Linked DNA regions of Homo sapiens. The protein of the gene in region 3 purifies or fractionates together with the protein of the main gene of each other region. This does not show direct contact. Each region holds a gene or a part of one and is shown on either strand. Other genes may lie near its edges. The genes, in order: MRTO4, PRKRA and GTPBP4.

Region 1 (3,600 bases), on a different chromosome or scaffold from region 3:
AAAGGCTTGGAATTGAAACAAAACCTGATAGAAGAGGTAAGAGGTTGTTCTTTTCTAGAGCTTGCAATTGTTTGGTTTATAAAGGTAGGTATAGGACTGTTGGCCAGGGATAGGACTGTTGGCCAGGGGAACATACTAGTGGGGAAAAAAAAAAAATCTCCAAGCTGCCAATCCAGGCCTTTTTCCTCCAGCAGCAGCACCAGCAAAAACTTCCATAGTGATGATTTCCAGCTTTGACTAGCTCGTACTCTGTGCCCTGTCCTGCACTGTGTTTCTTATGCGTTGTTCCACTCCATCCTCATAACATCCCTGTGATGTGGGTACTAGGTGATGATGTTGCTGTTTTGCATTTGGGGTCACTGAAGCTTACAGAGATTTGTTAGCCTGCCTAATGTCAAAAAACAGGAGGCCAGGAATGGTGGGCCACGCCTGTAATCCCAGCACTTTGGGAGGCCAAGTGGGTCAGACAGCTTGAGTCTGGGAGCTCAAGAGCAGCCTGGGCAACATGACAAAACCTCATCTCTACAAAAAGAAAAGAAAAAAAAACTAGCTGGACGTGGTGGTACGCAGCCTGGGCAACAGAGTGAGACCCTGTCTTTAAAAAAAAAAAAAAAGAGCTGGGAGATTTACCAGGTGTAGGTGACTGCACCAACCCACTGTCTGTACAGCTTCTGACCTGCCAACCTGGGCTGCAGGCTGGGTGAAACAGTCTCCTCCTGCACAATGACTCCACTCCTAGAGGCTGCCTCATGGTGGCTTTGGCCAGCACCACGTGCAGAGCAGTACCGATCAGCTGCCTCCCCTTATAACAGAGAGGCTCCATGTGTTTCCATGTAGCAGGACCCTTCCTAATGTGGGTGAATGTTTCTAGGTTAACAGCTGATGATCAGTTCCACTGTTGGTCATAAATAAGTGAGAGACCTGGAAAAGGCCGTGGGGTGTAGATCCATGGCTCAGCCTCCCCTGTGGTTAGGGATCCTAATTTCAGTAATGGAGGTAGGAGACAACCAAATTAGAGGCCTCCAGTTCTTCCAGTTTCCATAGTTGTCAGGGGCCCAGAGCAGATTCATTCTCATCTGAGGCCAGAGTAGTGCCCGTTGTATGCTGCTGCTTGAACTCAGAGCCTCGTGAATTGTCCCACAGCTTCGGAAATGTGTGGACACCTACAAGTACCTTTTCATCTTCTCTGTGGCCAACATGAGGAACAGCAAGCTGAAGGACATCCGGAACGCCTGGAAGCACAGCCGGTGAGCGGGCAGGGGGAGGAAGGCCCTTCTGAGTGGGGACCCGGCCAGGCTGCTCTCAGTCAAAGCACAGGAGCAATTTCTGACCCTTTAGGTGCCTGGGTCATGCCGCTGACACCTTAATAAGGACAAAGTGCTACCTGCCACTGAAGAGCACTTCCTTTTCACTGTTAAAGCTGGTCTTGGGCAGGGTGCGGTGGTTCACGCCTGTAATCCTGGCACTTTGGGAGGCTGAGGCAGGGGGATCACCTGAAGTCAGGAGTTTGAGACCAGCCTGGCCAACATGGCGAAACCCCTTCTCTACTGAAAATACAAAAATTAGCCGGGCATGGTGGCAGGCACCTATAATCCCAGCTACTCAGGAGGCTGAAGCAGAAGAATCACTTGAACCCATGAGGCAGAGGCTGCAATGAGCTGAGATTGCACCATCGCACTCCAGCCTGGGTGACAGAGTGAAACTCCACCTCAAAAAGCAGATTTTGCACTGAGCTCCTAGGGGCAGGACTTGGCAGTTGCTCAGGAGATGTTTGAGAGGTGGGCCTTTCCGGAGAAGTGGCCCTTTAACCCTGGACTGTGGGCCATTTAGGAGCATCACACCAGTTTTAGAATGTCAGTAGGGACACTGCGACACAGACAGTGACCTGGGAGCAGGATGCAGGAGCCACATGGCAAGTTTCTGTCCTGGGGCAGGTGGCTCTGGTGGTGGTCTCTTGCCGCACCAGCTCTGGTTCAGGCTGTTAACATGCCTCCCGCATACATCCAGATAGAGAACTGGTACATGATGCTCGTGATGGGCTGGGAGACAAAATGTTGCCATGTCAGGAGTCTGTGGGTGGGAACATAATGAAAGGGACCCCAACGTGGGGACAGTGTGGCCAGGCAGCATGGAGAAGTGGGTGCCACTGGCTCAGCCTGGGCCTGAGCTCACTGGGGACCGGAGCTACTTTGCATGTTGCTGAGGGATGGGGAGGGCAGGGCTCTTCCTTCACAGAATGCTCTTTCTCTTGCTTGGTAGGATGTTCTTTGGCAAAAACAAGGTGATGATGGTGGCCTTGGGTCGGAGCCCATCTGATGAATACAAAGACAACCTGCACCAGGTAAGTCTCTGGCCCTCACGGGGTGGAGCTAAGGCAAAGCCGCCCTCTCTCCCACTACTCCCATGTGACAGCCTCCCCCAGCCATTGGCAGGCCGGAGGCTCAGGGAGAGCAGGGCCTGGCTTAAAGCTCTGGGTTCTCCCTTCACCTCCGGACCCAAGGAATAGCAGCTTCCTGCCTCCCACTCCTTCCTGCTATGACAACCAAAAACGTCTTTAAATGTTGCCAAATGTACCCGGTGAGCAAAAACGTGCCTAGTAGAGAACCACTGCTCTAATGTGACCAAGCTGTCCTCACTCCTGATTTGTAGGTCAGCAAAAGGTTGAGGGGTGAGGTGGGTCTCCTGTTCACCAACCGCACAAAGGAGGAGGTGAATGAGTAAGTACTGCTGAGGAACGGAGGGAAAGAGGCGGGTGAGAGGGGATTTCAGGGAGGGAATGATGCAGGAACTTCGTTCCATATGTGGCATCAAGTTGGAACTGCTCCTGGAAGCCTGTCACTGAGCTAGTGGCCTGGGACCACAGCCCTCTCTGTCCTCTCCAGCATGGTGCTCTGGGCTGGCTGCTGGCCAGCAGCCAAGGTCTGTGATGGGGGAAGGCCCAGGGCCACGGGACACTTGGGGGAGCCTGACTCATGGGCTGGTGGCGTGGCCAGGAGCATCTCCTCCTACCACTTCTCTTTTCCCTTAGGTGGTTCACGAAATACACAGAAATGGACTACGCCCGAGCTGGTAACAAAGCAGCTTTCACTGTGAGCCTGGATCCAGGGCCCCTGGAGCAGTTCCCCCACTCCATGGAGCCACAGCTCAGGCAGCTGGGCCTGCCCACCGCCCTCAAGAGAGGTATGGGCAGCCCTGGAGCCAAAAGGTCACAGCCTAGAGTCCAAGAGCACGGGCCTGCAAGCTCATCCCTTTCTAGCTGAGCAAGTTATTTCTACAAGCTTCCATTTTCTCATGAGAAAATGGGGCTAAGAGTGCATGCCTCACAGTGGGGGTGAAAGCAGACAGTAACTTACAGCCAAAATGCAGCCCTTGAGGCCCATCAGGGGCCTTGCGCTTGTTTAAAAAAAAAAAAAGTCAAAAAATTAGACAGCCATGGTGGTGTGTGCCTGTGGTCCTAGCTACATGGGAGGCTGAGGCAAGAGGATCACTAGAGCCCAGGAGGTCGAGGCTGCGGCAAATCAAAGGGACCTCAGGGAGACAGCCACTGCCCAGTGTGTGTTGGAGCCGTGGGGAGGGCAGGTGGCTGACTGGATTCCTCCC
Region 2 (3,824 bases), on a different chromosome or scaffold from region 3:
ATAAACACTCTTTTGCACTTGAATGAGTTTCTCTGTAGAATTATTTCTAGAAGTGGAACTGCTAAGTCAAAGAACATGTACACTTTTAATTTTGATAAATACTTCCAAACTGATTTCTGAACCAATTTATACTCCTACCAACTGTCTTGGAGGGGGCTTGTTTTCTCATACCCTCACTAATACCAGCTATTATCAAATTTTGTAGTTTTTGCCAATCTAAAAGGTGAAAATATTTTATCTTGCATGAATAAAGTTGAATATTTTTTCTTTTTTTCCCTTAATCGTTTGCATTTCTTCTACTGGGTTGTCTTTTTAACTGATGCATAAGAGCTTTTTAAATTTTCTCTTTTTTAAGAGTTAGGATCTTGCTGTGTGGCTTAACTCTCAAACTCTTGGGCTCTAGCAGTCCTCCCACCTTAGCCTCCCGAGTAGCTGGGACTACAGGCATGTGCTGCTGTGTGCAGCAGATGTGTACAAAAGAGCTTTAAAGGTAGTACTGAAAACAGTTCCTTTATAGTTCTATGTTGAAAATAATTTCTTCCCACTTTTTTATTGTCTTAATTTACAGATTTTTTGCTGTGCAGTAGGTTTTATGTTGTCAAATGTATTAATCTTTTAACCTAGGTTTTAAGTTAAAATGCTTTCCCCATGCTAAGATTTTTAAAAAGAAAAACTCTTCCATGTTTCCTAATATTTATACTGTTTCAAATTTTTATGTTCAAATCTTTGATCCATCTGAAATTCACTTTGGTGTAAGGAATAAGGAAGCATTCTAAATAGATGTCATACACATCAACAAATATATATATATAGCCCCCACCCAAATGTGGATGTAAACTGTTTCTACATCATTATTGAATAATCCATCCTCTCACCCACTGATCTGAAATCTCACTGTTGCTATATACTATGGTCCTATGTGGATTAGCATCTACGCCTGGATTCTCTATTCGCTCCTCTGACTATTCCTGGCCCAGTAACTTGTCTGACAAGTTCAGTTTTACAGTATGTTTTGTTCTCTAGTAAAGCAGCACACCCTTGCTCTCCCAACTCTTCCTTTTCAGTTTTCTTGGCTATTCTTGAGGGTTTTTTTCCAGATAAACTTCAATAAACGTGTATCAAGGTCCAAAATGAACGCTGGTAGGTTTTTTTTTTTTTCGAGTTGGGGTCTCACTCTGTCGCCTAGGCTGGAGTGCAGTGGCGTGGATCTCTGCTCACTGCAAGCTCCGCCTCCCGGGTTCATGCCATTCTCCTGACTCAGCCTCCGGAGTAGCGGGGACTACAGGCGCACGCCACCAGGCCCGGCTAATTTTTTTTTTTGTATTTTTAGTAGAGACGGGGTTTCACCGCGTTAGCCAGAATGGTTTCTATCTCCTGACCTCATGATCCGCCCACCTCGGCCTCCCAAAGTGCTGGGATTACAGGCGTGAGCCACTGTGCCTGGCCAAACGCTGGTAGGTTTTGAGTGAGACCACATTACATTTAAATATATTTACAATGTTTTCTGCTCTATTCTTTAGTAGACTTTTCCTCACGTGGTCCTACGCATTTCTTTCTAAGTTTATTTTCATATAGCCTATCCCTGTCTACAATTTAAATTGGGATCTTCTATATTCTAGTTATTATTTGTAAATAAGAAAACTACTGACTTTTTTCTAGTATATTTTCTCAGAATAGGATTTTCTATTTTTCTATAAAATGACCAATGTTATGAAGCTTCGTAAGTTTTGTCAAAGTGATACACACATACAGCAAAAAATCAAATAGTACAGAAGTATAAAAGCAACAACCTCTGCCTTGCCCCTTCTCCACCTTCAGGTCCCCTTCCCAGATACAATAATTTTTAGCTTTTTATTTTTAATTATTCTGGTTGTTACCTACATAACTCTGGGCAATATGGAAAAGTTATTGATTTTGTATATTAATTTCATAATCAGTTACCTTGATGAATTCTCTTGTTTCTAGTAGTTTTTCTTTAGGGTTTTAAAGGGATACAATCATACCATTTGCAGTTAGTAACCATTTTATCTCCTCTTATTTCCAACTTCGTACTGTTTTCTCTTGTCTAATTTGTTTTTAATTGGTGGGTACTTCTAGAACAAGGTTAAATAAAAGTGGTGTTGGTGGGCGTCCTTATTTCTGATATTAATGGGAATGAGTATAATGTATAAATATATAACCATGATTTTGGTTTTTTTCCAAGTTTTTATCAGTAATGATTGCTGAGTTTTATCAAAATTTTTTTGGCATCCATTGAGAGGATTATATATTACTCTTTGACACATTAATGTGGTTAATTAAAGTAACCAACTTATTAACCTTGAAATAGTCTTAGTTAAATAAACCCTACTTGTCAATGCTATATCATTATTTTAATATTGTACTGAACATTTTACAAAGGTGTTTCACCATAAGGCATATTGATCTGTAATTTTTTTTTTTCTGTTGAACTTGCTATTGTCAGGTTTTGGTGTATTATGTTGGTTTTGGAGAATAAATTTAAAAGTTTCCTTTATGTTATCTATACATTGCCTGAAAAGAGTTTAAATAGCATTGAAAATGATCTCTTCTTTGAAGATTTAACCAATTTCACCTGTAAATCTGTCTGTGCTTTGTAATTTTGGTGATACTGTTGACTCAAATTCCAAAAGCAGTAAATGCAGTGTTTTATATTTTTCTATTAAAAATGTAAAATCAAATTATATTACTCATTTGTATATAGTCTTTGATTTTTTTCTAAAGAATGAGCCCTTATTTTATCATAAGCTCAGTGAAGAAGTTGCTACAGTTGTACTTTTTTATTTCCCACCTAATACACTACTCTCAGATAATGTACCACATGACACACCTATCTGTGAATATCAGAATCTGAAGTTATATATCATGTGTAGGCCAATCTCTTAAGCTCTGAATTTATTTGTTCAGCTACTCGATATATTCACTTAGCTATTCCATAAGCTATTCCATAAGCACTTCAAATTCAATATATTTAGTTCATTATCTGCTCCCCTCTTGCTATTGCCAAGTTTAAAATAGTAATTTCCTCCCTTTCCCTTGCTTCCCACATCCAATCAATTACCATGCCCCTTTACCTCAGTTTTCTAAATAACTTTAAAATCTACCCATCTCTCTCCATTTTCCCAGCCACTACCTTAGTTCAAGCTGTCATGTCTCACGTGTCTTCTGTAACAGCACTCTCGCAGGTCTCTTTGATCCTAATTTCACTCACTTACCATAATGCAGCCAAGTGATTTCCTTGTAATGTATAGACTAGATCCTGTCCTTCCCAGATTAAAATTCTTTAATGACTTTGTACTACCCTTGGGATAAAGTTCACTTTCCTTATATAGGGGTCCCTTTAAGATTTAATCCCTCTTTACTTTGCTGGCCTCATTGAGACTCCCTCCCTCCAACACTATGTTCTACACACAACAAATCACTTAGGGCTCCTAGACTGCATACGATGTTTCACTCCTGGCCTTTGCACACGCTTTTTCTTCTCTCTGGAATTCTTTTCCCCCATTCTACAGGTCTTGGCTTAGACATTACTTCTTCCTGGAATCTGTCTCCAAACCTGTTTTTGTTGGATGCCTTCTTCTATGTTCCCACATCACACTCTGTAAGGACTAGCCTATAGAATTCCTTCCTTTCAGTAGTCTATAAACTCCTTAGAGGCAGGGACTGCTTATTCACTGCACCCCAGTACCCAACACAACACTTAGCACACAGTATGAGCTCACTAAATGTTTGCTAAGTGAATGAATGAACAAACAAAGGGATGGAAATGCGCTGTCACTTTGAAGGCAAAAATGGCACTACTGGCC
Region 3 (3,824 bases):
GTGTCTGGGCACCCGCGGCTCCTGTTCGATGCCCCAGGCCCCCACGATGGGCACACACAGCCTGCCTCCCCCCATGAGAACACTGGGCGAGAGCTTCGGCAGCATACCCTCTTCTTCCTGGACTCCTCAGTTTCCATCCTCTTCCTGCGAGCCACCACTCCTTCAGGGATGAAAGGGGGCCTCTCCTGAGAAGATCCCATATAAAATATTTATGTGAAATGCCTGCTGAATGAGAAACTTACAAAGCCGAAAAAGTAGAAACAAATTCCCTACGTGCAAGGGGAACAGAAAACCATACCCAGACCAATGAACAACCAACAGATTATTTTAGGGGAGAGGAGTGGGTTCATACCGAGACCAATTAACAACCAACAGATTATTTTAGGGGAGAGGAGTGGGTTCAGGGTCACTTTGAGCACAGAGACCAGGAGGACTCCACAAAGTGATTCCAAAGTTTATCCAGGAAAAACAGAAATCATGATTATCATGAAAAATTATGGAAGAAGAAAGTGGTAAGAAATAACACTGGATCAACAGATGAAAGAAATTTAGACATAAACTCAAGTGCATATAAGAATTCAATGGAAACATAAAATTTCCAATACTCAGGTCAGAAATGCCGACCACTTGAAACGGAGTGCAACCTCCACCCTCACAACATAACCAACTCAAGACACGGTGAAGACTATCCAAAAAAGCTAATTTTTAATGCTAGTATAAAAGATAATTTTTTTTTTTTGACAGAGTCTCACTCTTGTCACCCAGGCTGGAGTACAGTGGAGTGATCTCGGCTCACTGCAACCTCCACCTCCCAGGTTCAAACGATTCTCCCGCCTCAGCCTCCTGAATAGGTAGAATTATAGGTGCGCGCCCGACTAATTTTCGTAGTTTTAGCAGAGATGGGGTTTCACCATGATTGCCAGGCTGGTCTCAGACTCTTGACCTCAGGTGATCCACCCGCCTCGGCCTCCCAGAGTGCTGGGATTACAGACGTGAGCCACTGCACCCAGCAAGAAAAGATACTTTTAAAATGACTTTGGAATGAATGGTAAGCCTTTCTATGTACAATGCAAACCTGAACACCCAGAAAAAAAAATTAATATATGTTAATAGTTCAAAAATGTACAGCACATTTGAAGTTAAAAAGGCAAGTGACAAAAAGAGAAAAAAATTTGCAATGTATCTGACAAGAATCCAACCTTTGTAATACAAAAGTAACAAATCAGCGAGAAAAAGATAAACAGCCTAAAGAACTTTGAAAAGGCCAATAAGCAGACAAACATGCTCAACCGCACCCAGCATTACATAAACACACAACAATAAAATCATCTTTACACAAGACTGACAGTCAGTGCCCGACCACGCCGAGGACACAAGGAAAGACAGAGGGAAGGACACAGCCTCCAGCGTCAGTGCAGCACACACCAGGAAGGCGTCTGTGGGACAGGAACGTTGTCAACACCACATGGTGAAGTGCAGACACATTTGCAGTAAAACATGAAGACACAGCGTAACGATGTGTGCCCATTCACAATGGACAAAACAATGAAAATTTATTTTATTTATTTTTTATAGAGACAGGGTCCCACTATGTTGCCCAGGCTGGTCAAGAACTCCTGGGCTTAAGCAATCTTCCCACCTTGGCCTCCCAAAGTGCTGGGATTACAGGCGTGAGCTACTTCCCCCAGCCAAAAAAATGAAAATTTAAAGAATGAAACAGATTTCCATCTGTGTTTAAAGAACTTTTTAGAAACTAATCTTCTATATCAGAAACATTTCTGGAAGGATAAACTAACAGTGACCACGTCATGCAGTGGGAAACGGGTGCCATGTGGCGTTCTGCACTTTCTTCACCTTCTCGATCCTTTATGTAAGCAAGAAGGTGAAACTGAGGCCCACCCACAATATCCACCTGCGAGTGTGTGAAGCTGGATGGGAGGCTTCTGGAAAAGGCACGCAGACAGCACCTGCTGACAGTACTGTGAGCCCACGGCTGTCCCAGGGGCCGTCTTACCTTATCGTCCCTCCTGGTTGGGATAGCCAGGTGCAGTCTATTCAGCACCTCATTCACTTTATTTCCCTTCATTTTGGTTTCCACTCGATGAGCCAAAAGCCTATCGCAAGCCTAATAACGTAAAAAAGAAGGCACAGTCACAAACGCATCCTCCAGCAGCCTCCAGCTACAGGTTCCAGGAGGAGCCACAGATCAGAGCCACTGAGCCTTTTCCCTCAAGGTAACTAACACGTAGGGGGCCACATTCTCTGAGGCCCAGGTGGAAGCGGCCCTGAGGGAAGGTGCATCTCCAGTGCCTGGGCCTCTCTCCCACCACAGTGACCCTCTGCACAGACGGTGCCCTCCAACTGCCCTTCACGAACCGGAGGCAATGTTGCCCCTCAGGACTCTAACCGAGCAACAAATTCCTGAGTGCGACCATGGCATCAGGAGTGCCATCTTTTTAAATCCTGAGTGCGACCATGGCATCAGGAGTGCCATCTTTTTTTTTGAGATGGTATCTCGCTCTTGCTGCCCAGGCTGTAGTGCAGTGGCATGATCTCAGCTCACAGCAACCTCCGCCTCCCAGGTTCAAACGATTCTCCTGCCTCAGCCTCCCGAGTAGCTGGGATTACAAGCATGCGCTACCACGCCCGGCTAATTTTGTATTTTTAGGAGAGACGGAGTTTCACCACGTTGGCCAGGCTGGTCTCGAACTCCCGACCTTGGGTGATCTACCCGCCTCAGCCTCCCAAAGTGCTGGGATTACAGGCGTGAGCCACTGCGCCTGGCCAGAAATGTCCTTTTATTTGAGATAAAAACAACATGAAATACAAAGTAATTAGGACAGCATGTGAAATCCAGCAGCGGACTGCCTCCTGCAAAAGCTGTTCTGCTTTTCAGACTTTTCTCCCTTCTACTTCGAACAGGTTCCATAAAAATAATTTTCACTGTACTTGCTACCGAAATATTAAAAGGCCAGAGACAACAGCTGCTTTAGGGTAAAGTTGTTTGGGGTGAGAAGAGCAAAGCATCCCCTCACAACCCACTGTCCACGGGGGGCAAAGTGGGTCTTAGAAGGGTCTGTCTTCACGCCCCACTCTCGCACGCCACCCGCCTCGCTACTGCGAGGGCTCCAAGTGTTAACAATGTCTAGAAAGAAAACTATTTTCTCCCCACAACTGACTTGAATCAAACAAGAGACAGTAAAAAGACTAATACCTGACTTAAGGCAGCACTGACCTCTGTTTTAACTTTAATAACACCTTCCTCAGTCAGGGTGCTGGTCTCTATTACAGGGAATCCTTCAGACTGCAAATCTGTAAATATTTTCTGGGAATGCAAAGAAAAAACGAGAGATGTATTATTCATTTCCAGTTCCCTATGGAACAAACTGTACAGTTCTGCAAATGGAGGCTGCAAATGTGAACATCTGTGGTTGTTTCAAAGTCTTAAAAAACAGACATATCCTAAAAACAGTTATTTTCTTCATATTCTTCTATGATCAAGAAAACACAAATGACATCAAAAAGATGGCCGACTAGTAGCCCCTCACATCTGTCCCCCACAACAAAGGCAATCAGAATAACGAACAACTACATGTTAATAACTGAGGGGGAGCTCCAGAGGGCATCACAGGAGTAACAGGCACCCTGGGGAGCAGAAAAACGCAAGACGATGAAATACAGCCCAAAGAAAACACCAGGGGCCAGGCGCGGTGGCTCATGCCTGTAATCCCAGCCTTTGGGAGGCCGAGGCGGGTGGATCATGAGGTCAGGAGGTCAAGGTCACCCTGGCTAACATGGTGAAACCCTGTCTCTGCTAAAAATAT

What was found.
Region 1: the proteins of GTPBP4 (region 3) and MRTO4 purify together in Homo sapiens (affinity purification with mass spectrometry; 4 studies listed by BioGRID and IntAct, with this or other methods). This does not show direct contact.
Region 2: the proteins of GTPBP4 (region 3) and PRKRA purify together in Homo sapiens (affinity purification with mass spectrometry; 2 studies listed by BioGRID and IntAct, with this or other methods). This does not show direct contact.

What each region holds. Positions count from the first base shown.
Region 1 is NC_000001.11:19,254,805-19,258,404, forward strand, and holds part of MRTO4 (mRNA turnover protein 4 homolog), read left to right. Parts: coding exon 1-36; intron 37-1,143; coding exon 1,144-1,247; intron 1,248-2,259; coding exon 2,260-2,341; intron 2,342-2,649; coding exon 2,650-2,717; intron 2,718-3,028; coding exon 3,029-3,180; intron 3,181-3,600. UniProt on the Homo sapiens protein: Component of the ribosome assembly machinery. Nuclear paralog of the ribosomal protein P0, it binds pre-60S subunits at an early stage of assembly in the nucleolus, and is replaced by P0 in cytoplasmic pre-60S subunits and mature 80S ribosomes.
Region 2 is NC_000002.12:178,437,537-178,441,360, forward strand, and holds part of PRKRA (interferon-inducible double-stranded RNA-dependent protein kinase activator A), read right to left. Parts: intron 2,708-3,824; exon of another isoform or gene 1,331-2,707; intron 1-1,330. UniProt on the Homo sapiens protein: Activates EIF2AK2/PKR in the absence of double-stranded RNA (dsRNA), leading to phosphorylation of EIF2S1/EFI2-alpha and inhibition of translation and induction of apoptosis.
Region 3 is NC_000010.11:1,005,319-1,009,142, reverse strand, and holds part of GTPBP4 (GTP-binding protein 4), read right to left. Parts: intron 3,326-3,824; coding exon 3,236-3,325; intron 2,126-3,235; coding exon 2,015-2,125; intron 186-2,014; coding exon 108-185; intron 1-107. UniProt on the Homo sapiens protein: Involved in the biogenesis of the 60S ribosomal subunit. Acts as a TP53 repressor, preventing TP53 stabilization and cell cycle arrest.